7 linked regions of the Homo sapiens genome follow. The protein of the gene in region 1 interacts with the protein of each later gene in a pairwise test. Each region holds a gene or a part of one and is shown in the gene's direction. Other genes may lie near its edges.

The links.
Region 2: the proteins of BCAR3 (region 1) and AGR3 interact in a two-hybrid assay, tested with the Homo sapiens proteins (one large-scale study listed by BioGRID and IntAct).
Region 3: the proteins of BCAR3 (region 1) and DKK3 interact in a two-hybrid assay, tested with the Homo sapiens proteins (one large-scale study listed by BioGRID and IntAct).
Region 4: the proteins of BCAR3 (region 1) and PSMC3IP interact in a two-hybrid assay, tested with the Homo sapiens proteins (one large-scale study listed by BioGRID and IntAct).
Region 5: the proteins of BCAR3 (region 1) and GREB1 interact in a two-hybrid assay, tested with the Homo sapiens proteins (one large-scale study listed by BioGRID and IntAct).
Region 6: the proteins of BCAR3 (region 1) and ATAD2 interact in a two-hybrid assay, tested with the Homo sapiens proteins (one large-scale study listed by BioGRID and IntAct).
Region 7: the proteins of BCAR3 (region 1) and CASZ1 interact in a two-hybrid assay, tested with the Homo sapiens proteins (one large-scale study listed by BioGRID and IntAct).

The regions. Positions count from the first base shown.
Region 1 is NC_000001.11:93,563,758-93,567,102, reverse strand, and holds part of BCAR3 (breast cancer anti-estrogen resistance protein 3), read left to right. Parts: intron 1-3,345. UniProt on the Homo sapiens protein: Acts as an adapter protein downstream of several growth factor receptors to promote cell proliferation, migration, and redistribution of actin fibers.
Region 2 is NC_000007.14:16,871,504-16,875,550, reverse strand, and holds part of AGR3 (anterior gradient protein 3 precursor), read left to right. Parts: intron 1-1,707; coding exon 1,708-1,771; intron 1,772-4,047. UniProt on the Homo sapiens protein: Required for calcium-mediated regulation of ciliary beat frequency and mucociliary clearance in the airway. Might be involved in the regulation of intracellular calcium in tracheal epithelial cells.
Region 3 is NC_000011.10:12,001,789-12,005,835, reverse strand, and holds part of DKK3 (dickkopf-related protein 3 isoform 1 precursor), read left to right. Parts: intron 1-3,398; coding exon 3,399-3,536; intron 3,537-4,047. UniProt on the Homo sapiens protein: Antagonizes canonical Wnt signaling by inhibiting LRP5/6 interaction with Wnt and by forming a ternary complex with the transmembrane protein KREMEN that promotes internalization of LRP5/6.
Region 4 is NC_000017.11:42,574,636-42,579,351, reverse strand, and holds the start of PSMC3IP (homologous-pairing protein 2 homolog), read left to right. Parts: upstream 1-1,622; 5' UTR 1,623-1,665; coding exon 1,666-1,699; exon of another isoform or gene 1,700-1,790; coding exon 1,791-1,891; intron 1,892-2,049; coding exon 2,050-2,139; exon of another isoform or gene 2,140-2,272; intron 2,273-4,716. UniProt on the Homo sapiens protein: Plays an important role in meiotic recombination. Stimulates DMC1-mediated strand exchange required for pairing homologous chromosomes during meiosis.
Region 5 is NC_000002.12:11,613,626-11,617,672, forward strand, and holds part of GREB1 (protein GREB1), read left to right. Parts: intron 1-1,465; coding exon 1,466-1,665; intron 1,666-3,005; coding exon 3,006-3,095; intron 3,096-4,047. UniProt on the Homo sapiens protein: May play a role in estrogen-stimulated cell proliferation. Acts as a regulator of hormone-dependent cancer growth in breast and prostate cancers.
Region 6 is NC_000008.11:123,393,557-123,398,218, reverse strand, and holds the start of ATAD2 (ATPase family AAA domain-containing protein 2), read left to right. Parts: upstream 1-1,771; 5' UTR 1,772-1,861; coding exon 1,862-2,032; intron 2,033-4,662. UniProt on the Homo sapiens protein: May be a transcriptional coactivator of the nuclear receptor ESR1 required to induce the expression of a subset of estradiol target genes, such as CCND1, MYC and E2F1.
Region 7 is NC_000001.11:10,793,566-10,798,389, reverse strand, and holds the start of CASZ1 (zinc finger protein castor homolog 1), read left to right. Parts: upstream 1-1,743; 5' UTR 1,744-1,826; intron 1,827-4,824. UniProt on the Homo sapiens protein: Transcriptional activator. Involved in vascular assembly and morphogenesis through direct transcriptional regulation of EGFL7.

The DNA.
Region 1 (3,345 bases):
GCCCTGTTTCTCCTTGTGTGTTCTGTTGTTCAATGGTATAGAATAAACAGAGAGAAGGGGTCAAGAAAGAACTGGGGCCGGGCGTGGTGGTTCAAGCCTGTAATCCCAGCACTCTGGGAGGCTGAGGCAGGTAGATCACTTGAAGTCAGGAGTTCAAGACCAGCTTGGCCAACATGATGAAACCCTGTCTCTAATAGAAATACAAAAATTAGCTGGGCGTGATGGTGTGTGCCTGTGATCCCAGCTACTCAGGAGGCTGAGGCAGGAGAATCACTTGAACCCGGGAGGCGGAGGTTGCAGTGAGCCGAGATCGCACCACTGCACTCCAGCCTGGGCGCTGGGCAACAGAACAAGAATTGGCCAACTTGCCTACCACTTATTAATAGTACCTCTAATAGGTGAGATTAGAAAAGGTGATGTGCCAAGATGAGGAGGTGGAGTTTTATCCAGACCTCATTTATCTGCATTCCTGTTCCTTCCCAGTCACACTGGGAAGTGAGCTCCCCTGCTCTTAGCATCAGACACATCCTGGAAAGTGTGGGGCAGTGTTGCGTAAACGGATTTTTCTTACAAGTGCTATGGTGACAGAAAGCAGCCTCCTCAGTCAGCACGGCCGGCATTTATCACACATGTGGCATGCGCGCGGCACCGTGCTAACTGGATGTCCTGAGGAATTTAAGCAGGTACGATAAATGCAGTGTATACTGTGGGAGCACTTAGGGGAAGGGACTGATTTGGTCAGAGATGTTAGGAAAGAGGAAGCACCTGGTGACAGCTTCCCAGAAAACACTGCATTGATTGTTAAAGGACAAAAGCAGTTACCAGCAAGCAGGGCTGGGAATTCCACTCAGATGGCACAACCCAAGCAAAGGCGCTGAGAGACCTTGGGGAAAACTGGGATCCACAAGTACTTGGGTTTAGATTTGTGCAAAGTATGACCTAAGGAATGGCCAACTAGGCTACAGAGGGAGGTGCAGCTGGGAAGCCCTTCCACATAAGACCGTGGCTGAAGAAGAGCCAGTGAAGGGTTTAATCATGGGAGGGTGTCACATGGTCAGATTTCTGTTTTAAAGTAAATTACTCTGGTGTCTGTGTGGAGGAAGGCTGGAAGGCTGAAGGTTTGCTGGCAGAAAGACCATTCAGGAAGGAGGGCTTTGCCAAGGCAGTCATCAAGGATGACTATTTTCCATTACTATATAATTTTTTAAATTCTTCAAGGGCTCACAGTTTGATTCACAAAGTTAAGAACTATGTGGGGGCAGGAGACTCCATTTATTTAATTCTAAAAGGGAGCTGCCTCAGAACCAGATGTGGGACTTAGTCGTTTGCACCATCTGCTGTGGGTATAAGCACCGCATACCTGTTTCATTTTCTTCCTCAAAAAGTTCTCCAGGATTGGCTGTATGTTACTCAAACAATAAAAGCACACAAGTCAACAAGTATCAGAGTGCCTACTTAGACAAAGCCAATGAATACATTACCATGGATGTTGCATAAGCCAATACATCAGGGTGGGTTTTGAGAAAAGTGTGCCATAAGCTGCTCTACAGCTTTAAATCACTTTAAAGGTCACTGATGGAATTTTTCAGTCGATCCTAATATAGATTTCACAGCAAGTACCCATTGCTGTAAGTGACAGTGAACCCAGGAAAGGCAGAGATCTGCTCACCAGCATAGACCAGACCACGTGAATGGGAAGGGGCTCAAAGCATGTATGAATAGGAGTCACCATCTGGGGGCCGGGCGCAGTGGCTCATGCCTGTATTCCCAGCACTTTCGGAGGCTGAGGTAGGCAGATCACCTGAGGTCAGGACTTAGAGGCCAGCCTGGACAACATGGCAAAACCCCGTCTCTGTTAAAAATACAAAAATTAGCCGGGGAATTTTGAGAGGGAATACTTGAGAGGCTGAGGCAGGAGTATCAAGCGATTCTCCTTGATTCTTAATTTCATTGAGCCGAGATTGTGCCACTGCACTCCAGCCTGGTCTCAAAAAAAAAAAAAGTCACCATCTGGCCTTTGGTTGGTTATCCACCAAGGATATTCTGGCATCATCAGGAAGAAAATATTCCTGTTGTCCTTTCTACAACCAAGATCCTGTGATCTAGATGGCAGGTATATTTAATGGCAGAACAAACTATCCCAGCAATAATAAAGGATGAGAACCACATGACTCTTTGGCTAGAGGCTTCTCTCTCTTTAAAAGAGTTGCCTGAACATCTTTGGCCTTAAGCAGACCACATCCTCTCTTAGATGGAATAGAGTTAAGAAATAGGCCCACACATATGGCTGACAGTTGATTTTCAACAAAGGTGCCAAAATAATTCACTGGATAAAGTATAATCCTGCAAATGGTATCTGCTATTGGATATCCATATGCAAAAAAGTGAATCTCGATCCTTACCTCATACCATACACAATAATCCAAAATGGATCATAGACCCAAAATGTAAGAGCTAAAGTATAACCTTCTGTAAGAAAACATAGGAGAAATTCTTTGTGCCCTTAAGCTAAGTAAAGACTTCTTGGCCAGGCACGGTGGCTCACGCCTGTAATCCCAGCATTTTGGGAGGCTGAGGCAGGCGGATCACCTGAGGTCGGGAGTTCAAGACCAGCCTGACCAACGTGGAGAAACCCCGTCTCTACTAAAAATACAAAATTAGCCGGGCGTGGTGGCGCATGCCTGTAATCTCAGCTACTCGGGAGGCTGAGGCAGGAGAATTGCTTGAACCCAGGAGGCAGAGGTTGCACCATTGCACTTCAGCCTGGGCAACAAAAGCAAAACTCCATCTCAAAAAAAAAAAAAAAAAAAAAGAAAGAAAGAAATTCTTAGGACACAAAAAGCATGAACCACAGCAGAAAACATTGAGTACACATATATCTGATAAAGGACTTACATCTAGGCTATACAAAGAACTCTTACAACTCAGTGAGAAGATAAAATTTAAATAGACAAAAATTTGAATAGACACTACATCAGAGAAGGCATACAAATGACAACTACATGAAAAGATGTTCAAAGCATTCATCATTAGGGAAATGTAAATTTAAACCAACCACAATGAGATACCACCACACTATCTAGAATGGCTACAACTAAAAAGAATGATAGGCCAGGCACGGTGGCTAATGTCTGTAATCCCAGCACTTTGGGAGGTCGAGGCGGGTGGATCACCTGAGGTCAAAAGTTCGAGACCAGCCTGGCCAACATGGCAAAACCCCGTCTCTACTGAAAATACAAAAAATTAGCCAGGCGTGGTAGCACACACCTGTAGTCCCAGCTACTTGGGAGGCTGAGGCAGGAGAATTGCTTGAACCCGAGAGGTAGAGGTTGTGGTGAGCCAGGA
Region 2 (4,047 bases), on another chromosome or scaffold:
CATAAAAGACAAAAAGTGGAAACAACCCAAATATCATTAACTGATGAACAGATAAATAAAATATGGTATATTCATACAATGGAATAATATTTGACCATAAAAAATGAATTAAATAATAATACATGGCACTATAAGGATGAACCTTAAAAAGGTTATGCTGAGTGAAAAAATCTAGTCACAAAAGCCTACATATTGTATGATTCCATTTATATGAAATGTCCAGCATAAGCAAATCTATAGAGACAGAAAGTAGATTAGGGGTTTCTTAGGGCTGTGGCATTTGAAGAAAATGGGGAGCAGGTGATAGCTAAATGGTATAGGGTTTCTTTTTGAGGAGATGAAAATGTTCTAAAATTGATGTGATGATGGTTGCACAACTTCGTGGATATACTGAAAAAAGCACACATTTTCTTTTTTTCTTTTTTTTTTTTTTTTTGAGATGGAGTCTCGCTCTGTTACCCAGGCTGGAGAGCAGTGGCGCAATCTTGGCTCACTGCAACATCCACCCCCAGGTTCAAGCGATTCTCCTGCCTCAGCCTCCCGAGTAGCTGGGACTACAGGCACATGCCACCACACCCAGCTAATTTTTGCATTTTTAGTAGAGACAGATTACACTGTATTGACCAGGCTAGTCTTGAACTCCTGACCTCAAATGATCCACCCACCTTGGTCTCACAAAGTGCTAGGATTACAGTCATGAGCCACCATGCCTGGCCAAAAGTATACGTTTTCAATAGGTGAGTTGTATTGGCGTATGAATTTTATTTCAATAAAGCTGTCGCCAGAAAACAAACATGAAAAACAAGCAAAAATCATGGAATCATATTTATCAAATTACTATCATATTTACCATGATATTAAAGCCAGAAACTGTGGTCTGACAACATTTGAAATGTACAAGAAAACCTGGGCCCAAACTGACTTCCAAATATTGCTAATTTTCACATTAATTCAATCTCTCTCATTCGTAGACTGAGACACTTCCTGAAAATACTCAGTAATGTTTTTGGAGGTTCTGCACATTCTTCTACTTGATGATTTTATCTTTAATTGCTTATACACATTCCCAACTATTCATACCATTTCTTTAAGGCTAATGGGTTCTCTCTATATTCATTGCTTTCTGTTTTTTCTCTCCATTCTTTTGGGTGTTTCCAAAACACATGCGTTTTATTATGTCTCTTGGCCATGAAATTCCCACACAAGAATTTTTTCCATGTCAGAATTCAAAGCAAAACTTGGAATTCCCTTATTTCACAACGTATACTGACTTAGAAGAGGTCAACATCTCTTGGGACCCAAAATAGGAGGGCATTGTAGAGTACAGCCGAAAGGATTCCTAATAATATTACAAAGTATGCAAAGATGAACTGTTACTTTCCAAGCGTTCCTAAAGCCACAGCTTTTACATTATCCAAAGATGTCCTTTCAATCAGCTCTAATCATAACAACATGTATTGAGTACTTACTGGGTTCAAGGCCATGGGCCTCGAGGTTTGAAATGCAGTAGCAAAACCTCAGTACTGCAATCTAAAGGGAAATCACCTCCATATCTTGTGAAAATTGTGTGTCCTCTGCACCATATGTCAGCCAACAGCTTGATGGCTTAGTTAAATATCTGTAGGTAGATATCTGATTATTAGATACCCATTTCCGAGCTCTTCTCTAGTTCTGGGTTACTGCATTGATTTCTCTCTTCTATTTCAGGATGGGGAGATGACATCACTTGGGTACAAACTTATGAAGAAGGTCTCTTTTATGCTCAAAAAAGGTAACATGCTTCTCAGCTCATTTTTTTCCTTTTATTTGTAGTAGACTCATAATAATTGTACATATTTATGGAATATAGAGTGATATGCTGATACATGTACACAATGTGTAGTGATCAAATCAGTGTAATTAGCATATGCATCACCTGAAACATATCATTTCTTTCTGGTGGGAACACTCAAAATCCTCTCTACTAGCTTTTTAAATATATACAATAAACTATTGTTAACTGTATGTACCCTATAGTGCTGTAGAATACTACTCAAACTTATTCCTCCTATCTAGCTATATTTTTGCATCTATTAATCAACCTCTCCTTATCCTTCCAGCTCTGAACCCTCCCCAGCTTCTAATAACCAGAGTTCTACTCTCTACTTCTATTAGTACAACTTTTTTTTAAGCTACTCTATATGAGTCAGAATTTGTGGTATTTATCTTTCTATATCTGACTTATTTCACTTAACACATCCTCCAGGCTCATTCATGCTGCTGTGAATGAGAGCATTTCATTATTTTTATGTCTGGGTAGTAGTCCACTGTGAATATATAACATGTTCTCTTTATCCATCCATCCATTGATGGACATTTAGGTTGATTCTATATCTTGGCTATTGTGAATAGTGATTCCATAAATATGGAGATGCAAATATCTCTTTGATATACTGATTTTTTAAATAAATACTCAGTAGTAGGAAAGCTGGATCATATGGTAGTTATATTTTTAGTTTTCTGAGAATCCTCTATATGTTTGCATAATGGCTGTACTAATTTACATTCCTACCAACAGTGTATAAGAATTCCCTCTTCTCTGCATCCTCACCAGCATTTGTTATTTTTTGTCTTTTTGATAATATCAGTTCTAACTGTGGTGGGATAATATCTCATTGTGGTTTTGATCTGCCTTTCCCCGATGATTAGAGATGTTGAGAATTTCTTCATATCCTTGGCCATTTGTGTGTCTTCTTTTGAGAAATGTCTATTCAGATCTTTTGCCCATTTTAAAATCAAATCATTTGGGGTTTTTTGTTGTTGAGTTGTTTGAGTTCCTTGTATATTCTAGATATAGGCCCATGTCGAATGAATAGTTTGCAAATAATTTCTCCTATTCTACAGTTTGTCCCCTTATGCTTTTGTTTCCTTTGCTGTTCAGATGCTTCTCAGGTGACATAGTCCCATTTGTCTATTTTTGTTTTTGTTGCCTGTGCTTTTGAAATCTTACCCATACATTTTTTTGCAGGGAACAATGTCCGAAGGGCTTCCCTTATATTTTCTTCTAGGAGTGTTATAGTTTGGGGTCTTACATTCAAGTCTTTAGTCCATTTTGAATTGATTTCTGCATATGGTAAGAGTTAGGAGTCTAGTTTCATTCTTCTACATATGGATATCCAGGTTTTCCAGCACCATTTATTGAAGAGGGTGTCCTTTCCCCAATGCATGTTCTTGCCACCTTTGTTAAAAATCAGCTGACTTTAAATACGTGGATTTATTTCTGGGTTCTCTATTCTATTCCATTGGTCTAGGTTTCTGTTTTTATACAAATACCATGCTGTTTTGTTTACTATAGCTTTGCAGTATATTTTGAAGTCAAGTAGTATGATGCCTGCAGTTTTGTTCTTTTCACTCAGTATTGCTTTGAACTATTTGGAGTCTGTTGTGGTTCTATACAAATTTGAAGATTTTTTTCTTTCTGTTTCTGTGAAAAATATCATTGGTATTTTGATAGAGATTGCATTGAATCTGTAGATTGCCTTTGGTGGTATGGTCATTTTAGCAAAATTCATTCTTCCAATCCATGGCATGGGATGTCTTTCCATTTTTTGGTGTTCTCTTCAATTTCTTTCATCAATGTTTTATAGTTTTTCTTGTAGGGATCTTTCACCTCCTTGGTTAATATATTCCTAGGTGTGTGTGTGTGGTTTTTGTTTGCTTGTTGTTTTTTTGAGATGGAGTCTTGCTCTGTCACCAGGCTGGAGTACAGTGGCGCGATCTCAGCTCGCTGCAACCTCTGCCTCCCAGGTTCCAGTGATTCACCTGCCTCAGCCTCCTGAGTAGCTGGGATTATAGGCACATGCCACCATGCCCAGCTAATTTTTTATTATTAGTAGAAACAGGGTTTCACCATGTTGGCCAGGCTGGTCTCGAACTCTTGATCTCAGGTGATACGTCCACCTCAACCTCCCAAAGTGCTGGGATTACAGGCGTTAGCCACCACGCCTGGCCTTTTTGTGGTTATTGTAAATAGCATTGCTTTCTTGTTTCTTTTTTTCAGCTAGTTTG
Region 3 (4,047 bases), on another chromosome or scaffold:
TTATTAGTATTAACTTTTTATGGAGACTGCCAGAATGCCCCTTAAATCTCATAGACACAGGATAATTGGTATTTAGTCATTGTTCAGGGGAAAAATCAAAAAGGACCTGGGCCAGATGCATTATTTGTTTACATAGTTGCATCATGAATCTCCTTTCAAGTAACTTCCTGGCATTTTCAATGTTCCAGCTGAATCAAGCTGTTGAAGTTTCTTAAGGGGAAGGACAAAGCAGCTCTACTTGTACGGTCATTATTGGAAGAAGCATATCTTCAAATGGCTTCAATCTGGGATATTCCTACTTTCCTGTGTTACTATTCTATATGCTACCAATCAATGTATTCTGAAGATATAACCACTCTGTTTCTCTTCCCCTCATGGCCAGCTCTGTAACTCACTCATTTTAGAATGTTCTTACTGCCTCACCTATTTCTAGTATAAGTGCCATTTTTAATAGCATTCACATTCCTCCTCTACGAAACAGCTCCTTTTGCTTCAGACTTAAGTTTCTCTTGCTAGTGGCAATAATAGTTGCGGTTGAAATTTCCATTGTAAACTATACTTTTAGTTCATGGTGCCATTTAAGAACCGTTAGCTCATTCTGTTGAAATAACCAGTGGCTGAGCTGGGGGGAAAAGTTTTATAAAAAGACTATCTGCTCAGCCCAGAGCAAATTCTAGGTTTGGCAACTTGTCAATTATTTGAAAGCCAAACTGATCCCGATGGGAATTTTAAAAACACTAAAACATTCTCTTCTTCTGGGTGGGTCCTCTCCAGCACCTTCAGTCTTCTCTTCCCAGCTGCGTTTTTTTCTATCACTAACCAGAGTGGTAACTGAGGGCAAGGTCTCTTGCTTTTAAGGAAAGTCATTTTCTTGCCCATTCTGTCTTCTATCTCAGCCCCATTTCTTCTCCCCTTTGTTGGCAAGCTCTTCAAACACATGATATCAACGTTTGCTCTTCCTGCTTCTAGCTACCCATTCCCTTCAGAACTCTGGCAAAACAAACTGGCTTCTTTTGAAACTGCCTTCTTAAAGGGCAACGGGATAAAAACAGCTGTGTATTTCATCTTTGCTGTGTGGCAGATAGTGTATTTCATGCCTTAATTCTTATATCTACTGCATGGTCCTTAATTCTTATATCTACTCAACAAAGTAGGACATCCCTATTTTACAAATGAGCAAGCTGAGGTTTAGTGGGATTTGGTATCTTGCCTAAAGTCATACAGCTACTTTGTGGCAGAGCCAGGACTTGAACCCACCTTGTCTGACTCCAGAATCCTGGTACTTTCCACTGTGTTCCTCTCCGAGGATGCTGCAGGCAATGACTTGACTCATCCAGTGGCCATCTCTCAGTGGCTTGATCCTTCTAGACTTACTTAGAGTCTTTCCCACCTAGAAGGTCCCTACCCAGAAGTAGCTCCCATCTCCTAGACCTAATTCTAGCCAGTTTCCTGACTCCCCTCTCTTTCTGATCTACTCTTTATATTATTTCCCGCTAGCCTTCTGGAACTTGCTGTAGTTCCCTATTGCCTGGAACGGAGATTCTTAACTGGGGATCAGAGGGAGGGGAGGGAAATCCTCAGAATAAGCTGAGAAGCTCAGTATTATCAGGGTCTCATCTCTAGAAATCCCAATTCAGCGGGTCCATGAAGGGATCCAGATATTTCAATTTTTTAAACTTTTGGACCTGACTCTATAATCACAGCTTCCCCATAAGGTTGCTGTCAATATTCAAGGCATCTGGTGCAACGATTCAGACATAGTCAATGCCCCAAACGTGGGGGCTATTCTTAGAATTATTATTGTTATGAAGCCAGTGATCAAGTTTCAAACATCTCAGCAGCCATCTCAGAATCCAGCACAGAATCCGGCCACTGACTAAGTCCTTGTTGAGCCTTTCTGCCTACCAGGTTTTATTCACACTTTGAGTTTAGTGTTTTTGTGTTGCATTGAGACATGAGGATTCTTTCCTCTTATCCTCCTCAGCTCAGCAAACCTGGTGGTTAAAGCAGGGGCTCATCTAGTACTTAAGGGGATAGAGGACAGTGATTTTTTTAAATAGGAAAATACTTTTTGAGCATTCTTTTTTTAAAAAAAAAAATAAAAATAGCCCATAGTCAAAAATAGCAGTGTTGGAAAATTGCCAACTATCAGGTAGAACTTCTCTTTATGTCTCTCATTTGAAATTCCTAGAGAGAGTATCTGATTGGCTCAATTAGTCTATGATGTGGCCTCCCTTTGGGTCCCATCAGCTGTGAACAGGTCACATTGTCAACTGCCCACTCATCAGGGCCAGGACAGGGTGATAAATCTGGAAGGGGAAGTTGGGTGCAGATATGAGGTCACTGACATATCTGGTATAGATGTTATGGAGGATCATGAGCCTGGAGGATTTGAGGACAGCGGCCACAGAAACCTGACACCAGAGAAGAACATATGTCTAAGAAAACCAGAAGGGGTGTGGACCCCGGGAACTGGTTAACTGACCCTCTACAAGGGTCCCTCTGCAAGGATTTCCTACAAGGGTACCCAAGAGGCAGGGTGGGGAAGGAGACACAGCTGTGGCCCTACCTACAGGGAGTAAGTTTAGGTTCCCTCCATCCCCTGCCCCTACCACCACCAACAACAGGTCCTGCCACAAGGACTTAAGAGCAAATAGTGCATTTGGGATGTGCTCCCAGAAAACACTAGCAGGAAGTGGGAAAGTGTGATGAAAGAAAAGAAAGACAATCAACGGTATGCCTGCAAGCAGGTTACTGCTGCGGGCATCTAGGGCTCCATCCCACTGGAGGCCTTAGAGGGAGACTACGTAGATTCTACATGCTTTAGAATTGTCTAGCGAAGGGAGAAGCTAGACTGTTTACCTCCATAGCCTGACTTTCATTGCTAGGATGTTAACTCCCTAGCACTTGGGGCCTCTGCAGACTGAGCATACTTTGGTGACCAGAGAATGCCCTTAGAGAGAGACAGAGTTGGTTGTTGGCATGTATGGGAACTGGATACAGGTGACCTCCAGATTAGGCCACCAGGAGATGGGCAGGGCATCAACAGCGTTTACACAGGGAGCAAGACTATCTAGTGGAAACATGTTCAAATCCCAGCTCCACCCTTTCCTGGGACTCTGGGGAATTTATCTAGTCTTCCTGAGCCTCAGTTTCCCTATTTGTAATATGAGGACATTAACACCCACCTCCCAGAGAGATTGTGAAATTTCAGTGCTGTAATATATGTAAAACGTTTAGTATAATATCTTATCATAGTGAGTACTCAATTAATAGCACCTATCATCATCATCATTCTTTGTAATTGCAGAAGAGGAAAAGAGATTTTTTTTTTCTAATAGACTCCCATTTGTAACAAGAGAAAATAATTTTGCTCATTAAATTCATCGATTTAATAGATGGAGGCAGAAGAAGCTGCTGCTAAAGCATCATCAGAAGTGAACCTGGCAAACTTACCTCCCAGCTATCACAATGAGACCAACACAGACACGAAGGTTGGAAATAATACCATCCATGTGCACCGAGAAATTCACAAGGTAAGTCATGGCCAGCACTTCCTCCTTTCTATAGCGTCCAGTCCCATCAGAGAACTAAGGTTTTTTTGTTTTTGTTTTTTCATATGTGATATACAAGCCCAAACTACAATTGAGAATCATAAAATACGGATTGAAAACCAGAAGGAGTAATGTTACTGTTGAAAGTGGAGAGACAATGTATCAGGATCCTAAACTGCTTTTGCATTTAAGCAATATATTTAACCCTAGGCTTCCTGCCAGTCCAGTTGCAAAGGAATGTCCAGGGATTATCATTTGAAAAAAAGAAAGCAAATGGATGTCTAAAAAGACCCTTTCCTAGCATTGAATTTGTGGAATTGATCTATCTCATAGGTTTTTATGTATGTCTCAGTAGGGATTGAACTAGAGACCACGTTATGGTGAATTGACCCTCACTTTTTTTTAGGAGGAATGTAAATATGATATACCCCATTTCCAAAAGAGAAACCCTCTATTGCTACAAAATTAAACATTCATTTGCTGGTTGTGCGTT
Region 4 (4,716 bases), on another chromosome or scaffold:
CATAGTATGAGGCTACTTTCCTTCTTGTGAGAGCCCCACCATCAGTATAACTGGCACTCTTGGCTAGTATTTAGCCTGTATTTCCTTCATTTCTAATTTCTTTTTTTTTCCTGAGACGGAGTCTTGGTCTGTCGCCCAGGCTGGAGTGCAGTGGTGCGATCTCTCACTGCAAGCTCCGCCTCCCGGGTTCACGCCATTCTCCTGCCTCAGCCTCCTGAGTAGCTTGGACTACAGGCGCCCACCAGCACGCCTGGCTAATTTTTTGTATTTTTAGTAGAGATGGGGTTTCACAGTGTTAGCCAGGATGGTCTCGATCTCCTGACCTCGTGATCCGCCCGCCCTGGCCTCCCAAAGTGCTGGGATTGCAGGCGTGAGCCACCGCGCTCGGCCCTTTCATTTCTAATTCTTAATATTGTCTCCTAAACGTGCAGAGACAAGCACACGTTTTAAAGGCTAAGGAGGTTGTAGGTAGCAGAAGGCTTTAAAAAGTAGCACCTTACTCCTTCACTGGATGGTCTGAGCTGCAGGGACAGCTGCTCTTTGGCCTTCAGCTCACCTCAGAAACTAGAAATATTTATTTCAGGCTCTGTCCCATTGGCCACTGTGGTCAGGGGTGGAAAGCACCTGCCAGGTGTTGCCCTGAGATTGTCTGGGCTAACAAACTTTTCCACAAGCTTTGTGGTTGAACAGTAGCCCCCTCCTAACCCTATCGTTCCTTGGCGTCCAAACTACAGTAGGTGTCGAGTGCCCCCTGGGTGCGAAGCTCGGTATTAGGCAAATAAGGGTGGTTGCTCTCCAAGGCGCTTAGCTGTCCCCCCTTCCCACTTTTTTTTTTTTTGTTCGAGACTGCGTCTCGCTCTGTCGCCAGGATGGGGTGCAGTGGCGCGCTCATAGTGGCTCACTGCAGCCTCGATGTCCGGGGCTCTGGTGACCCTCCCACCTCAGCCTCCAGAGTAGCTGGGACCACAGAAGCGCGCCACCACTCTTAATTTTTTGTACTTTATTTGCAGAGATGGGGTTTCATATTGCCCAGACTGGTTTCGAATTCCTGGGCTCAAACGATCCGCCCGCCTCAGCCTCCCAAAGTGATAGAATTGCAGGGGTGACATGCCACTGCGCCCGACCAAGGCGCTTAGCTTTCTATTAAGTTTTCACAACCACTTTCCTACCACTATCTACTGTTCCTATTTTACAAATGACAAAACTAACCGACAAAAGAGCACTGGACCGTGGGACCAGAGCACGTCCCTGTGGGGTAACCTTGAGCTGGTCGCTTGCCCAGGGCGGCAGCGGATGTCTGAAGCGTCTTCCAATCCCAACATTAGACTTAATTCAAGGTCACCAGTGCTCAGCTGCGGCTGGAACTGGGTCTCGAAACTTGAAGGCCTTCTCTGCTACAGCCTTCGTTCCCGGGAGCAGAAAGAGGAAGTTTCTTAGCCGTGGGCACGCCGGCGCCTTCGCAGAGGCCCATGGCTTGAGGTCCGGCCCGAATGCGCAAGTTCCGACCTGAAATGAACTATGGAGTCCGGGAGGGGTCGCTTTGCTCCTCCGGAAGGCTTCCCCTTCAGCCAATCACCGTTCGAGGCCCGCCCCCGTCGCCGGAAGGAGCCGTCGCCCCGAGCAACTACAACGTCCGGCTTTCTGAGTTGGGTGGCGGGAAAGGCGATGAGTAAAGGCCGGGCAGAAGCTGCGGCGGGAGGTAACGGCGCCGTGGGCGCGGGGAAGACCCGGGAGGGCAGTGGGTGAGGAGGTCGGTTGAGTGGCCCCCTCCCCTGCCTTTCTCTCCGTAGCCGCCGGGATCCTCCTGAGGTACCTGCAGGAGCAGAACCGGCCCTACAGCTCCCAGGATGTGTTCGGGAACCTACAGCGGGAACACGGACTGGGCAAGGCGGTGAGGACCTTCTCCCGGGATTCCCTCTCCGTCGGACTCCCTGGATTCAGGCTGGGGTCGTGCCCTTTGGAGCCTTGGGCGTTTTCCACATCACTGGCTGGATTTCCCCAGACCCAGGCTCAGACTCCTCTGATTGCTCCTTCTCTCTCCTCTGCCAGGTGGTGGTGAAGACGCTGGAGCAGCTGGCGCAACAAGGCAAGATCAAAGAGAAGATGTACGGCAAGCAGAAGATCTATTTTGCGGATCAGGTGAGGAGAACTTGCGCCGATTGTCACCCATGAGAGCCCGACAACGGGTGAATCTACTCCTGGTGTGAACTCTTTGGGGACAAGGCCCCCCATGGAAAACTCACCTGTCTTAGGCCACCATCCTTAAATCAAGGTGTGTACTCCTCTTGTTAGGATCCCAACTTCACGAGGTTTCCAGATTTACAATATGATGGATGACAGAAGATTCTGTATTGTTGCTACCAAGATCCATTTCCGCTCCAAAGCTCTTATTCCTTATCATCTACATTAGCAACACCCTCTGCCAAATGATGTTCCTCCTGCCTCCATCCGATTCTCTAAACACACATATCAAATTTATATTCTCCAGCCCAGACCTCCAGCTGGAATCTGTCAGGCATTAATATCAGAGTCAAAATTGCCACAGTAGAATGCCTCATCTTCCCCCCACCCCGGACTGGTTTCTTTCTAACATTCTCCTCCCCTAATGGAATTACTCTTCACCCAAACCAGAAATTGGGAGCAATTCTTGACTTCCTTTACTAGTCAACCATCAAGTCCAGCTGATTTTTCCGTTTTTATTTATTTTTTTAATTTTTATAGAGATGGGTCTTACTGTGCTGCCCAGGTTGGTCCCAACTCCTGGGCTCAAGTGATCCTCCTGTCTTGGCCTCCCAAAGTGCTGGGAGGACAGGCGTGAACCACAGAGCCTGGCTAATTTTTCCATTCTTGAATCCACTCTCCTTTCCATCTGCCATGGTTGCTCTAGTTCACGCCCTCTTTATTTGTTGCAGTATCCTCCTAACAGATCTTGGCTCTTCAAACATATCTTAAACTCTTAAACATTGCAGTCAGAATGATCTGTCTAAATAGATCTGGTCATGCACCTTCCCTATTTAAAACTCTTCAATGGCTCTCTAGTGCTGCAAAAAACATGTAAAAGGCACCGGAAGACGCCCCAGCCAGCCTCTGGCCTCACCAATCCTCATTATTTTTCTATCCACGAACACTAGATAATTCTGGTGTGTTTTACTGCTCTGTCCTTTGCATGTTGTCTTCCCTGTACCTGCTTCTCTTCCTGGCCAGCTCTTTCTTTCCTTGAGGATTTCACTTAGACATCACCTTTTCCAGAAATCTTCCTTGAATGCTCCGAGCTAATTGTTTCTTTTTCAGGCCCTTATCTCTTTTTGTTATTGTTGTTGTTGTTGTTGTTGAGACGGAGTCTCGCTCTGTCACCCAGGCTGGAGTGCAGTGGCACAATCTCGGCTCACTATAAGCTCCACCTCCTGGGTTCACGCCATTCCCCCGCCTCAGCCTCCCAGAGTAGCTGGGACTACAGGCACCCGCCACGAAGCCTAATTTTTTTTTTTTTTTTTTTTTGGTATTTTTAGTAGAGATGGGGTTTCATCGTGTTAGCCAGGATGGTCTTGATCTCCTGACCTCGTGATCCACCCGCCTCGGCCTCCCAAAGTGCTGGGATTACAGGCATGAGCCACTGTGCCCAGCCTGGCCCTTACCTCTTTTGAGGCATGCTGTATTACAATTTTTACTTGTCTCCTTTATTCAACTGAAGTTCCTCTAGGGCAGACCCCATTTCTCAATTCATTTTTATCTGATCAGCACCTCCGCAGTATCTAACATCCAGCAGATATTACTCGTTAAACTGAACCAAACCACTTTTAAGGCTGACTTTCCTAAAACAGGCTGCATTGTGTTACTCATCTAAAGATAATTCTCTAAAGGAGGGTTTGGCAAACTTTTTCTGCAAATGGCCAGACAGTATTTTTAGGATTTGTGGGCCATATGTATCTCTTGTCATGGCTGGCTGTACAACTGCCACAACTACTCACCTCTGCCACTGTAGAACAGAAGCAGCTGTAGACTATGTAAATGAACGGGTGGGGCTGTTTCAATAAAATTTTGTTTTCAAAAACATGCATCTGGCAGGATTTGGCTTGCTGGCCATAGTTTGCTGGCCTCTGCCCTATAGGTTCACCTTGCCCAAGTGTAGAGTCCAGACTGCACTGGCTGGCATACTTTTTCAACCTGCTCCCCATCACCAACTGATGTGACCTCCCCCACCCCCACACTGATCCCCAGTGCAGTTCTTTTCTAGCAATGGCCCCTCATGAGAGAAGCTCCTCAGACTTACTGGAATCCCTTATCTACATGGATCCCAAGACCCAGCATAGTGGCTCATGCATGTAATCCCAGCACTTTGGGAGGCTGAGGCGGATGGATCACTTGAGCCCAGGAGTTTGAGACCAGCCTGGGCAACGTGGTGAAACCCCTTCTCTACTAAAAATACAAAAATTAGCTGCGCTTGGTGGTGCGCGCCTGTAATCCCAGCTACTTAGGAGGCTGAGGCATGAGAATCGCTTGAAGCCAGGAGGCGGAGGTTGCAGTCAGCCAAGATTGCACCACTGCACTCTGGCCTGGGTGACAGAGAAAGAAAGAGAGGAAAAGAGGGAAGGGAGGGAGAAAGAGAGAGAAAGAGAGAGGGAAAGGGAGGGGGAAGGAGGGAGGGAGGGAGGAAAAAGGAAGGAAGGAAGGAGGGAGAGAGGAAGGTGGAAAGAAGGATGGGAAGAAAGGACAGGA
Region 5 (4,047 bases), on another chromosome or scaffold:
TGACCTTGCTTGTTGCTATTTCACATGGATTAATTCTTTTCTTCTTCAACTCCTTAAGGACTGAGACAATGTCTTAATCTATTTTAAATTTTAGCAAGCATTTGCTGAATACCAGGTACCTTCTGGTACCTTCTTTGTACCAGGCATCATGATAGACTTTTCATATGAAACTTACTCCTTGCTGCAGTAGTATTACCATCCTGTTTCATGGTTGAGTCAATGAACGATCATTTGCTTGAGGTCATGAGCAGTAAGTTTCAGAGCCCCACTGGAACCCTCACGTACCCCTCTCTAAGCCCTTTGCCTTGGTTGTGTTTCTGCTGCGCAAGTCTGAGCACGGGGTTGGCCTTTCCTCTGCTGCTCACAGATAGCATTGCTTGTTGGTGTCCGACTTGATTGCCATCATATTTCTAGCATCTAGTACCCTGGCCTGTGTTCACTTGGATTGAATAATTAAATGCTCACTGATTACATTTAATCTTTATCACAGCGGACTTAGATTTTTTTTTTTTTTTTTTTGAGACGGAGTCTCACTCTGTTGCCCAGGCTGGAGTGCAGTGGTGCAATCTCAACTCACTGCAGACTCCGCCTCCTGGGTTCAAGTGATTCTCCTGCCTCAGCCTCCCGAGGAGCTGGGATTATAGGCACCTGCCTCCACACCCGGCTAATTTTTGTATTTTTAGTAGAGATGGGGTTTTGCCATGTTGGTTAGGCTGGTCTTGAACTCCTGACCTCAAGTGATCGGCCCGCCTTCGCCTCTCAAAGTGCTGGGATTACAGGTGTGAGCCACCACGCCCAGCCAGATGGTTATTAATATTCATTCCCATCTTTCAGATGAAAAAATCAGAGCCTCAGAGAAGTTGTGCAGCTTGTCACGGCTTCTGTCGCTAGGAAGTAGCAGAGCTCAGGTTCAAGCCCCCCCTTTTTGTTGTTGTTGTTGTTGTTTGTTTTGTTTTGAGATGGAGTCTGGCTCTGTCGCCCCGGCTGGATTGCAGTGACACAATCTCGGCTCACGGCAAGCTCTGCCTCCCGGGTTCACTCCATTCTCCTGCCTCAGCCTCCCGAGTAGCTGGGACTACAGGCGCCCGCCACCACGCCTGGCTCATTTTTTGTATTTTTAGTAGAGACGGGGTTTCACCGTGTTAGCCAGGATGGTCTCGATCTCCTGACCTTGTGATCCGCCCGCCTCGGCCTCCCAAAGTGCTGCAAGCCCCTTTTTTATCTGACCCAAAAGTTAGTGCAGCACAGAGCTAAATGCATAGTGGGTGTCCCCAAAGATTTACTATTATACTGAATTTGTTGCTGCAAGCTCCCAGTAACACTGTTGGCTTTTCCACTTGTACGAGTCCTTGGGTCCTCACCAGGAAGGTGGGGTGTGGTCCCGATCAGTGCTGCCTGCCGCAGTGGGAACAGCACTCCACTTGTGGAAGGCACTAAACAGACACCTTCTTCTGTGTCTTGCTAGGTCTTTGAGGTACTGTGACCTGCGATTGATAAACTCCTCCTGCTTGGTGAGAACAGCCTTGGAGCAGGAGCTGGGCCTGGCTGCCTACTTTGTGAGCAACGAGGTTCCCTTGGAGAAGGGGGCTAGGAACGAGGCCTTGGAGAGTGATGCTGAGAAGCTGAGCAGCACAGACAACGAGGATGAGGAGCTGGGGACAGAAGGTGAGGGATGGCTGCCCTCAGCCTACTTGTCCCTGTCTGCATGTCTTTCTTGGCTTCTGAGCTTTGAGGCTGCCTGTGCTTATGGAGACAGCTGTCTCCAGTTCAGCAGGGTCCTGGGACCTGTCTGCTGGACAGCGGCTCTGGATGAGAGGTCTCCAGTGTTGGATGAAATGGCAGAGCTCTCACTGAATTCAGATTTTGTTTGTTTTCTCCCCATCTCTTTTGGTGGTGTGAGAAAATGGAAATCCCTATAGGTTTTTCCTAGTTCTAGAATTCTTAAAGAATAGGAAGAAAAATTAAGATTTCTTAGAGTTCAAGTTCAAAATTTCTTAGAGTTCCTCGTTCCACTCACTGGTGGAATTCCCACCTAGTGTGATTTGCTTGTTTATTTCCTCTGTGAATCAACCCAACAGCGTGCTGTCCATTTTTAAGAAGTGTGAAAACAGGCTCATTTGCAGACTCTTCAAATCTGATGCCGCCTTTTTAATAGGACACATAAATGATAACATCGCAAGGCATTGACTATAGTCAACAATGTGATGAGAAAGACGTAGACAGTCATTCAAAAACTAGAAAGCATTTGTGGAGTGTGTGGAATGGAAGGAGGTGGGTGTGGGCACCAGCGCGGGTCTGTGGTCTGCCTTGTCTGTCTTGACTGTGGGACCTCTCTTAGCCTCAGCTTGCTCGTCTGTAAAATGTAGATGGAAAGGCCTGCCCGCCTGTAGCCATCTTTTCGAAGCACGGCAGAGACTCTGATTTAATTCTTTCATTTGTGAGTATCTGCTGCACGTCTCCGTGCTCCCTGGCATCTCAGGACCCCCTTCTTTAGTTTCACCATCTGCTTCTCTCTACCCATAGCCCGCATTGCACTGAGCACTGGCCCACGTTAAACTTGCAGTGGCCGGGCTGTGCCCTGCCCTTCTGGCCTCTGCGCTGCACGGCTGCCCTTCCTGCTGCTCAGAGTTTTCCTTTCTCTACTTTACCTGCAAAACCCTGAGGCCCTTCAGGGCGACGGCCAGATGCCCCCCTCTTCCAGGAGATGCCCTGCTTTTCCCCCAGGCTCCCCGACCCCTCTCTCTTTGCATCTCCTCCACCAGCTTGCAGCTGTGCCTCATGGGCAGGAGCCTTCGCTGCACCCAGAGTGCCTCCCTGCACTGCAGCCCACTCCCTCCTGTCTCCTCAGTGCTCTGTCCATGGTGGGGGCCTGGAAGATGGCAGTGAATGAGTAAATGGATGGGGAGAGGTGATGCATGGGAACACACTTTACACACTGTGAAGTGCTGGGCAAATGTCAGGAATGGTGATTTCGGTGCATTCTCAGCGTGTGTGTTTTGGAACAGGCTCTACCTCGGAGAAGAGAAGCCCCATGAAAAGGGAGAGGTCCCGCTCCCACGACTCAGCATCCTCATCCCTCTCCTCCAAGGCTTCCGGTGAGTCTTCCCACACGGGAAGGACCAGACCAGCAGACTGATTTTTGAGGTTTCAGAGAATGAAAAGAAACCTATAGAGGGCTATTTGCTGATCCTTTATTTTCCATCAGAACTGGAAAGATAAGGAAATCTTTGAAGTGCTAGACTCTCTAGAGAGTAAATATTGTGGTCAACTTCGGATCGGAGAACTTGAAGACTGAGCAAGACTGTAGGGTTCTGCTGCCCCTGTGCTCAGGGGAGGACCGTGGACCCTGCCCCTCACTGTGGCTGGGGCCTCAGGCTGAGTCCTGGCCGTGTTAGGGGCGGGTCCCCGGGTGTTCTCCCTGCCGTTGTTGGTTTGGGAAAACCCTGTGCCCTGTGGGGAGAGGAGCTGAGCGCAAGGAGAGAAGTAGACATGGAGACTTCACTGGGGGAAGAGCAACAAAAGGCAACACAAGCTCATGAGCCTTCCGCGTAGCCACAGCCACAGCGGGTGGGCAGTGCCAACCACAGGCTCCACACGGTCTCTGCCCTAAGGGGTTCCTCTGTCTCCGAGAGTAGTCAGGATCCCGCAGAGGAGGGCAGAGCCCCTGGTGAGAAACAGAGGCCCCGGGCAAGTCAGGGGCCACCGTCGGCCATCAGCACGCACAGTCCCTGTCTTTCCGCCAAAAGCATTCTGAGGGCCTACTTGCTATCTGGATCAGCACTGAAGGATAAATGAGATGTAGACCTGACCTCAGGGAACGAACTCATTGTTCTCATAAAAGACGTGTTATTTTGCAGTAGTCTTTTGCACACATTTTCACTTCACATATGAAGAAGTCTGTAATTTTGTCCCAAGGCAGAGGGCAGATTTCAGGGTAGGTGAGGTTACCACAGGTTTGAGAGAGCAGCTGACCCTCAGTCGGGCCTTGCGGAAGGTGTTGCAAGTGCAGGAAGCCTTAAGGGCCGAGAGGCTCAGGGGCGAGACGTG
Region 6 (4,662 bases), on another chromosome or scaffold:
ACCTCTCTCAAAAAAAAAGCAGGACTCCCAGTTAAATGCGAAGTTCAGATAAACAACAAATACTTTTTATATGTCCCCAGACATTGCATTCTTCATTCAGCAGCCACGCAGATTATTTTTAAAGTCGGAATAAGTCAAACCTCTGTTCAAAACCCTGAGATGTCTTTTCATCTCAGGGTTTGGATGGGAATTTGGGGGCTATAATAAAAGCCCTCAAAAGTTTCAAACTAAGACCCAGAGTCCCGTAGGACCTGCTCCCAGTGGCTCTGTTCTCATTGGCCTCGCCACTCTCCCCTTCCTGCTTCCCGCCTCTCTCTTCTTCCAGAACCATCTAACCTTTAGGCCTTTGTCAGACTTCTCAGCCAGACCTTCCCTAATCACCCTATTTTAAATTGCACTCTTCCCTCCCCCTTCCCTACTTTATATTTCTCTGTAATGCTTGCCACTTTAAAACTTTTACATTTAGTTTATTGTCTTTCACCTTCCACTAGAGTTTAAGTTCCATTAGGGCATTTTTGTTCTTTTTATTCACTGCTGCATCCCCAGTGCTTAGAATAATGCCTGGTACATAATAGAGGCTCAATATGTATTTAACAAATATTAAATTAATGAACTGTAGTTATCCAAATCAATAAATAGCTTTCGTTTATTTCGCTAAGAGCCCTCGGACATTCTGATCATTCAGCGTGTTACCTATTTCAAAGTAGTCAAGTAACTGCCATCTTAGAGAAGCCATCTTCTTGTATTCTGTGATAATAGCGAACGCTTATTGAGCACTTATTATGTGCAAGCACGGCTCCAAGGTATCATAATAGTACTTTAGGGCCTTAGGTATTACAATCGGAGTTACTTTCCGATTATATGTACATTCCGAGATACGTATAAAAAGTATTTGTTCTTTATCTGAACTTCACATTTAACTGGGAGTCCTGCTCTTTTTTTTGAAACAGGTTCTTTTTTTTTTTTTTTTTTTTTTTTGAGACAGAGTCTTGCTCTGTTGCCCAGGCTGGAGTGCAGTGGCACGATCTTGGCTCACTGCAACCTGTGCCTCCCGGCTTCAAGCGATTCTCCTGCCTCAGCGTGTGAGGAAATTAGAATGCAGGGAGGTGAATAATTTGTTCGAGATCTTCTATGTGGGATGATCAATGGCAAAGATGGGTACAGAACCCGCGTCCTTAACTAAACGATGGCACTCTGCTGGCTCGCTTTTAGCTCCTTGTGTTTTCTTTCTTTTTGGTGGTTAACTTGTTTTCGTCAAGCCCTCAATTATTTAAAAAAAAAAAAAGTTCTTAAGGCTCAAAGTCAAAACCTGTCAAAGGCCAAGTGCTTTATTTCCCTCCAGTCAAGGACTGGGCATTTTGCATTTGAATCCTGGATGGCGGGAAGCAGCAAGCAGGTGTCAACAGGGGTGGGGAGGAGACGCCGGACCCCACCAGCCAATCAGAGCGCGCAGAGGCCTCCCTTCCCCCGCCGCCGTCCCGCGCCAAAATTCCAAACGGGCTACGCACCGCTCCCACCGTCTCCTTCCGCCGAGCTCAGCGAGCCGGAACTATGTGAAGAAAAAGAAGTCAGCGTTTTCCCCAGGACTCTCCGCTCAGGTCCTCTATACTGTCGGCCTGTGTTCCTCTCCACGTTGGCCCGGCCTCCTTCGCTCTACAAATGGGAGGAGAGTTTCGAGCCTGCTGTTCTACGGTGGTGGCGTGGGCGGGACAGACGGCGGAGGGATTCTGGGCGCGCGCGCTGCGGCCGCTGGCGCGGAGCTTGTGGCGCCAGAATTCGGAGCGCGGAAGAGCCAGAGCTGCGAGCGCCTGGAGCTGGATCTCTCTCCGGTCGCGCACGCCGAGGCCAGTAGGGAGAGAAGATGGTGGTTCTCCGCAGCAGCTTGGAGCTGCACAACCACTCCGCGGCCTCGGCCACGGGCTCCTTGGACCTGTCCAGTGACTTCCTCAGTCTGGAGCACATCGGCCGGAGGCGGCTCCGCTCGGCCGGCGCGGCGCAGAAGAAACCCGCGGCGACCACAGCCAAAGCGGGCGTGAGTACGGGCCTGAGGCGGGCTCCCAGGGCGGTTCCCGGGGGGACTGCCGGCAGCCCGGCGCTCGGAGGGGCCTGGGGGTGGGCGGCGCCGGTCAGGGTGACAGTTGTCGGGGGAGAAGTGTGGTCGAGGACGAGTAAAATGGAAGCTCTCGGGATCGGAGGTGCGGGTCGGATCGCTGAGCTGAGGCTGGCCGGGAGAGGACTAAGCATTTGGTCACCACCTACTTTTACGCAAGAGGAAATCGAAGCCCGCCACAGCGGAGTGCGGTCTGGGGCCAAGCCGCGGCTGTTCGGCCGCCCGCACGACCCCCCACTCCCTGGCCGATCGATCGCCCAGGCTCCTGCCCTAGGTTCGCATCAACCTGGAGGCAACACGCATCCCCTGACTGCTTTCTGTCTGCGCCATAAACGTTGGGGGGGAGGGGGCACAGGGACAGACAGGTTGTAATTCAGGTTCTCTGACCTCCATTAACGATCCAGAGGAGTTCCGTAATAACAGCGCAGTGAATAATACCAGGTTGCATAATGTGGAGGGATGAAGACCAACATTTCATGTACGCCCCCCGCTTCCAAGCCTCGTCATAACCCTTTGAGAATGCGTAGTTGTGCTATCTCTTTGACAGATGAAGAAACGGATTCAAAAAGGTAAACAGTAAGGGGTAGATCTAAAATTGGAACTCAGATTGCCTGCCTCCTAAATCGTTCCCTTTCTATGCCGTCATGCTGCAGTTACAAGCAGTGTCTATAGGGGAAGTTTGGAAGGAAGGAGGGTCCTCTTGAAAGAAGTGCTGCTTCTAGGTCTGAAGTGCAGTGACGGTTTTTGCAGGGCAGAGTTAAAGCTGAGCAGTTACTCCCCTCCCATCCACCTCCCCACCCCAGCTGCTGAAAGAGGCCTAGGTGGAGGGGTTTCAGCATTCACAGAAGGTTGAAGAAGTCGGGGAAGCTCGCTAGTAAATTTAGTTAAGGCAGCAAGTAATATATAGCTGGACTGAAGGTGTTGGAGTGAGTGAGGGTAGGCATGGAGTAGGAAAAATAGGACCTGAGAGAAGGTTGGGAACTTGGGAATGAGAATGAGAGGCTCAGGGGAAATGTGTGGTGGAAGTGACAATGTAATCCTCTTCAGTTCAGCAGACGATTTCAGGGTCTTGTATTAAGTCTTCTATTAAGATCTTGTATTTAGATAACTATATAAAATTAGTTGCCAGTATCTTTTGTGGGCATCCCATTCTGGTTGCTACTCTACTGAGGGGAATGGGTTAAAAACTACACTCCCTTCAGTCTCTGAAATTGTGATTCTGAATTGAAAAGACAAGTAATTTCCTGACTTTAAAGATTTGTTTCTCAGTCATCTGCCAGGAATTGGCAGAGACCTGGAGAGGCCAAACACTTCTGCACTGGAATTGGTTACTTGACTTAACCTGTGTTCAGAAAATGTGTTTCAATACTGATTGATTATTTATGTCCAGGGTAACACTAGATCCTGTGAACATAATGATACGTACTGATATATTGAATACTGGTTAAATACATAGGCTCTTTTTTTTTTCTTCGAGACAGAGTCTCACTCTCTCATCCAGGCTGGAGTGCACTGGTGTGATCTCGGCTCACCGCAACCTCAACCTCCACCTCCCGGGTTCAAGCAGTTCTCCTGCCTCAGCCTCCCAAGTAGCTGGGATTACAGACATACACCACCACGCTGGGCTAATTTTTGTATTTTTAGTAGAGACAGGGTTTCTGTATGTTGGCCAGGCTGGTCTCGAACTCCGACCTCAGGTGATCCACTTGCCTCAGCCTCCCAAAATGCTGGGATTACAGAATTGAGCCACCCTGCTTGGCCAAATACATAGACTCTTAAGAAAACTGTTAATTATGAATTTCAGTTTCAGCTTCTCAGGTTTACCAATAATCATCAGGTTTCTACACTTGTTAAATGGGATGATACCCACCACATTGGTAGTGAGGATTAAATGTGATCATGTATGTAAGGAGATTAATTGAACAGTTAGCATATGGTTAGGATTCAGTCATTGTCAGCTATTAAGACCATCGTCAGTTTTAGTTAATGGCCACTCCGTTTTTTTTTTTCAGTTCCTCAGGAAAAAAAACCTTAGGTTGTTGTTGACTCCTCACATCCAGTGCATTAGCAAATTCTGTTGGCTCCACTTTCAAAATATATTCCAAGTCTGACCACTTTATATGTCCTCCAGTGTTGCCATGCTGGTTCAAGCCATAATCTCTTTCCTGGATTATTTATTTATTTATTATTTTGAGACAGAATCTTGCTCTGTCACCCAGGCTGGAGTGCAGTGACGTGATCTCGGCTTGCTGCAGTTTCCGCCTCCCGGGTTCAAGTGACTCTCCTGCCTCAGCCTTCCAAGTAGCTGGGATTACAGGCATGCGCCACCACGCCTACCTAATTTTTGTGTTTTTGGTGGAGACGGTGTTTCACTGTTTTGGCCAGTCTGATCTCAAACTCCCGGTCTCAGGTGATCGGCCCACCTCAGCCTCCCGAAGTGCTGGGATTACAGGCATGAACCACCGCGCCTGACCATCTTTCCTGGATTATAATAGATTCTTGATTGGCCTCCTTCCCGTTTTCCACTGTTTGATATATATATTATGCCCCAC
Region 7 (4,824 bases), about 83 Mb from region 1:
CCCGAAACATGTGTCTAATGTCTAAATCTGGCTTTCCTGTGTGGACAGATCCTGAATGGACCCCCAGAACTATTCCAGGAAGTGAGGAGCTGGTTTTTTGAGCTGGTTTCTTCCCCAGTCCATCTAACACAAGCAAATATCACTGAGTATCTAAGGAGTGTGGGATGGCTCAGCTTCCTCTCCCAAATTTGTTGGCTTTATTAGGGCACAGGGCAAATCCTGGCCTCCTCAGGGCCAGAGGGCCATCATGTCTCCAGTCTGTGTCCATATGCTTCTGGACAATTAACTTCCAGTTTAAGGCAGGACATGGGAATGCATCCCGGAAGATGCTTGTCTTAGACAATCATCATACAGGGTTTTGGGTCGTTTCTCTGGTCCTGAGAGGCTTTCCTGACACCTTGCAGATTAGGCTCCAAATACTACCAGCCTGCAACAATGTTTACCAGCCTGTGGCATTGCCTCTTAGTTTAATGCATTCTGTTGAGCAGGGCTTGAAGCTGTGGGTCATACTTTGAATTTATATTCATTTATTCCACAAATCATTGATCTATTTCGTTTACTGTTATGGTCAGTTTCTCACTTATCTCATCATCTGGGTGTTTTCAGTTTCTTTCATGCCTCTCGATATTTCCATCCCACGCTTATGCTGAAGGGAAAAGCAGCTCAGGCCTGGAATGAGGGGTGCGCTTGCTGAGAAAGGCAAGACCAGAGCTACAGGGCCTCAGCACTGAAGCTGACTACTAGGCTCAGCTGGTGTGGCCACCTCAAACCAACTGGGAAATGGGAAGTCTGGGTATGGGAGAAAAGGGGGTTTCTTCAATAAAGTATGAAAGTGCCCCTCAAAAGGCCCTTCCCCCCCATCTGGGGGCAAGGGGATTATCTCTCGCAAGACACTGCTTTGTTTTGTTTTGTCAGAAATGAGGTCTAGCTATGTTGCCCAAGCTGGTCTCGAACTCCTGGGCTCAACCGATGCTCCTGCCTCGGCCTCCCAAAGTGCTGGGATTACAGGCGTAAACCACCATGCCGGCCCCCAAGACACTTTTTAGCCTATTGCCTTGGTTTATTTTCTTCATGGATACTTTCACTCTCTGAAATAACATTATCCACTTGTTTTAATGTGTATTATCTGCCCCCCCCCCAGCCCCTCCATGTAAGGTTCATTCTGCACGGCCTATCTTGCTCACTTAAGGATTTATTTCTTGCACAATAGATTGAATGAAAAACTCCCTTGCAAAGAATAAGTGCAAAGCAGATATCAAACAGTGAGAACATTTCGTTCCTTTGGGTTCCACAGTTCTAACATTCTAACTTGCAAAAAAGAGCCAGTTCTTCTGTCGAAAGTGGGAACCGAACTCGGGCTCTCTCGGGGTTCAGAACAGGTGGAAAGTAACCCCCCCCCCCATCCCTTCTCTCTTTTCCCCTAGCCTCAACTCAACTCAGCTGGGGGGGGGTGTAGAAGCCTCTGGACCTGCAAAAGGGGGCCGAGCGCTCAGATGCTCCTCCGCAGGCCGTGCGACTCGCCGCGCGCACACGCTGAGCTCAGCCCGGGCGGTGGGTGGGAAGGATCCGGGAGGGGCAGGTCTGGGGGTGTGAGGGTGGAGCGGAGCCCGGCCCCGCGATCCGGCCCGGGTTTTGCATGCCACCCACTCGCCCGCCCGGCCGCGGAGAATTCCATAATCACAGCGGGCGAGAGCGGAGACTGGGAGCGAAAAATCCGGGATCCGGCAACTTTGGGCAGCGCATGCGCGCCCGCGGCGCTCCATCCCAAACACACACACATTTTTCCCCCGGACTTGGAAAGTCACCCAAAGCCGCCCCAAGTGCAGGTAAGAGACTCGGCGCTCCCTCCGCCGCGGCCCCCCCACGTCCCCCAGCTCCGCGGGCCTCCCGGGGCGCCTCCCCGTCTCTCCCCCTGTCCCGGTGCACCCCCCCCACCCCCGGGGCTGCCGCTTGCAGCAGGGAGCGGGCGAGCGAGCGAGCGAGCGAGCCAGCCAGCCAGCCTGCGATCGGCGGCTGCCACCCAACTCCGGCCGTGCGGAGGCAGGGGGCACGGAGGGCTGGCACCCGGGCGCGGGGCGGCGCGTTGCCTGCCGTGGCCAGGGGAATGCCCGGCGCGCGGCTCCGGGGGAGGGGAGGGCTGCTCCTCCTGGGGGTCGCTTACTCCAACTGAGGGGGTGGCGGGGTAGGGGAGAAGAGAGGGAGGTGCCAGGCGCGAGCACAGGACTTTGCAAATAGGGTGGGGGCGCCCCACGCGCTGTGGGCTCCCGGGGGGGCAGGTGATCTCCAATACCGGGTAATCACTCCTTCCCCTTAAACCCCCACCCCACCCCACCCCCCAGCAGCAGAGGGGTCGTGCGCTCTCCAGGGCAGAGAAGGAGGCGGGGTGAGGGGTGCCTGGGGTGACTTTGCAAGACTTTGCCCATGGGAAGGGGTGGGTGGGGAACCCCTCCAGCCGGCTCTTGTGCCCGGATACCGGGTGTAGGTGCTGCCAGCAGAGGTAGGCAGTGTTCGCTTAGGCGCGGGGTGCCAAAGGGTATCCCCCATAGGAAATCGAAGGCAAGAGATTTCTTAGATGGGGGGAGCGGCGCCCCCTTTTTCATCTGTGCCTGGGAAGTTTATCTCAAGTGCGCTGCTCCAGGCGCGGCAAGTGGCGTTCCTCACTCCCTTCCCCACCCCACCCCCTGCCTCCCCAGCTGAAGGGCTGGCAACACAGGGCACGGGGAGCCGGGGCATCGGCCCAGAGCTGCCCGGCTGTCGGCTGGAGCCCGCCTGGGTCCCGGGGAAAGTTCGGGCGAGTTGTTGCCGGCTGTTGTGTGCGCCAGAAGAGAAGTTGCGCCCGGGGACGTGGGACGCTGGGCTGGCGGGCTAGCGGGCTGGTAGAGTGGTGCGCTCCGGGGGGGCTCTGCAGCGTGGGAGAGGGTCGGTCGGGGTCTGTTCCCCCAGGGTGGGCTGAGGGTGACCTCGGAGCTCAACAATTGGGGAGGAGGAGCCCTGAATCCAAGGGCACAGGGCTGAAATAGGCACCTGGTGAAGGACAGAGAAAAAAGTAGTTTGTGGGGGCGCAGGGAACACCAAAGGGAGAGAGCCGGTTTCCCGGTCACTTAGGGTCCGGCTTAACGGCAAAGGAGAGCGTGGTGACTGACGGAGGAGCGTCGGGGAGCGGGGATCCAGGGGGCGCGCGGGAATGGGGGATCGGGCCAGACCGAGTCAGGGATCTCCCGGGGCAGGGGGCCGATTCGTGCGCCCGGGGTGAGCCGGACGGGCGGAGCGGCGGCCGGTTTATTTTTACTCGGTGGCATTTGCAGAATGTGCAGCTGATGGCCGTCGGCCGCCAGGAAGTTTTGCTTTCTGTTCTTTCTCTCTCTTTCCGAAGCCAGCACTGCCGGGAGCTGGCGGGCCGGGCAGCCGGGTCTGGAAGGGGAGGGGGCGGCCGCCGGGGTGGCGAGGTGCGGGCAGAGGCGCGCTGGGGCCGCTGGCGGGGGCTGGCCGGGCGCGGGCGGGCGGGCGGTTGCTGGGCCGCTGCGGAGCGTTTGGGCGAATGTCTGTCCCCGGCGCTGGAAGCTCCTCCGCGAAGGGAACAGGTGTATGCGCCGTCAATCACGGCTGGAGGGACACTTTGGGGGCGTAGATTAAGATAATAATAATAGATTTTTCTCTAAGGGGTGGGCGCAGATTCTTCTTCCAAGTCATCCCCGACCCGGGTCCGGAGTTGGGGGAGGCTAGTGGAGCGCTGAGGGAGGCAGGGGACCCCCTCTTCCTCCACACAAGTTCCTCTGCCCCAGCTTCAGCTTGGAAAGCCGGCTCTGGGCGCGGCGAGGACCTCCTTCCAGCCACGCTGGCTACGGTGCGGGTGCGGGTGCGTGCCCACCGGAAAAGCGGCAGTAGCGCCTCTCCTGAGTATGGAGCTCCCCCAAACCTGGATCACTGGGCCACGGGGCGGAGTGTGCGTTTCTGACCGAGTGGAGTGTGGGGGTGCGGCCCTCATTGTGCGTAGTTGTCCCGCCGACACCCGGTACACTCAGGGGGTGGCGAGGGGGAAAAGGCCCTGGTAGTCGCGGGGCAAAGTTAGTAAATTTAGGACGTCTCCGAGCTGGTACAGGCGCGCGGTGAGAGCGCACGAGGGGACTGGAAAACAGATCGCCGGATAATCTTGGTGTCCCCCCGCCCAACCCACGACGCGCGCGCGCGCGCACACACACACACACACACACACGCATACACATACAAACACGCACACACACGCGCACACACACACGTCGCCGTCCTAAAGGGAGCTGTCCCGGCTGAGCAGGAGCAGCTGCGCCGGGCATGGGGAGGGGGGTAGTTGTTCCCCGGGGGCTGAGCCGGGGCTGCGCTCCACGTGCCCGGAGGGGGCGCTGGGCCGTTCGGCGCCCGAGCGCAAAGCGCCGGGTTTGCGTCCTGGTGGCGACCAGGCGGTGCGTCCCGGGCGGGCGTCGCGACCTGCGCAATCTCCGGCCGCCCGCGCCACTCCCCCGACCCCCAGCCGCTTTCCCACTTCCCAAACTTCGGTTTTTAGGGTGTGCCCCTCGCGGGAGCTCCTGGACCCTCTTCAGGGCAGAGTGGAGAACTTCTCCTTTCCAGGAGGTAGCCACCATCTCTGTCCCCAGAGTCCGGCGAATTGGAGAGATCGCCGCCCCGCCCCCCCGCCACCCACCCCCTTCTTGTTAGCCACCTTAGAGGCGGTTAAGGAGAGTTTATGGGGAATATTGTTGAACTTCAGTAATCAGGTTTCCAGCGATCTTATGCCTCCTGTTTAATTTATTAGACTAGTTATTTATTCTGTTGATGATAATCTGTTGCTGG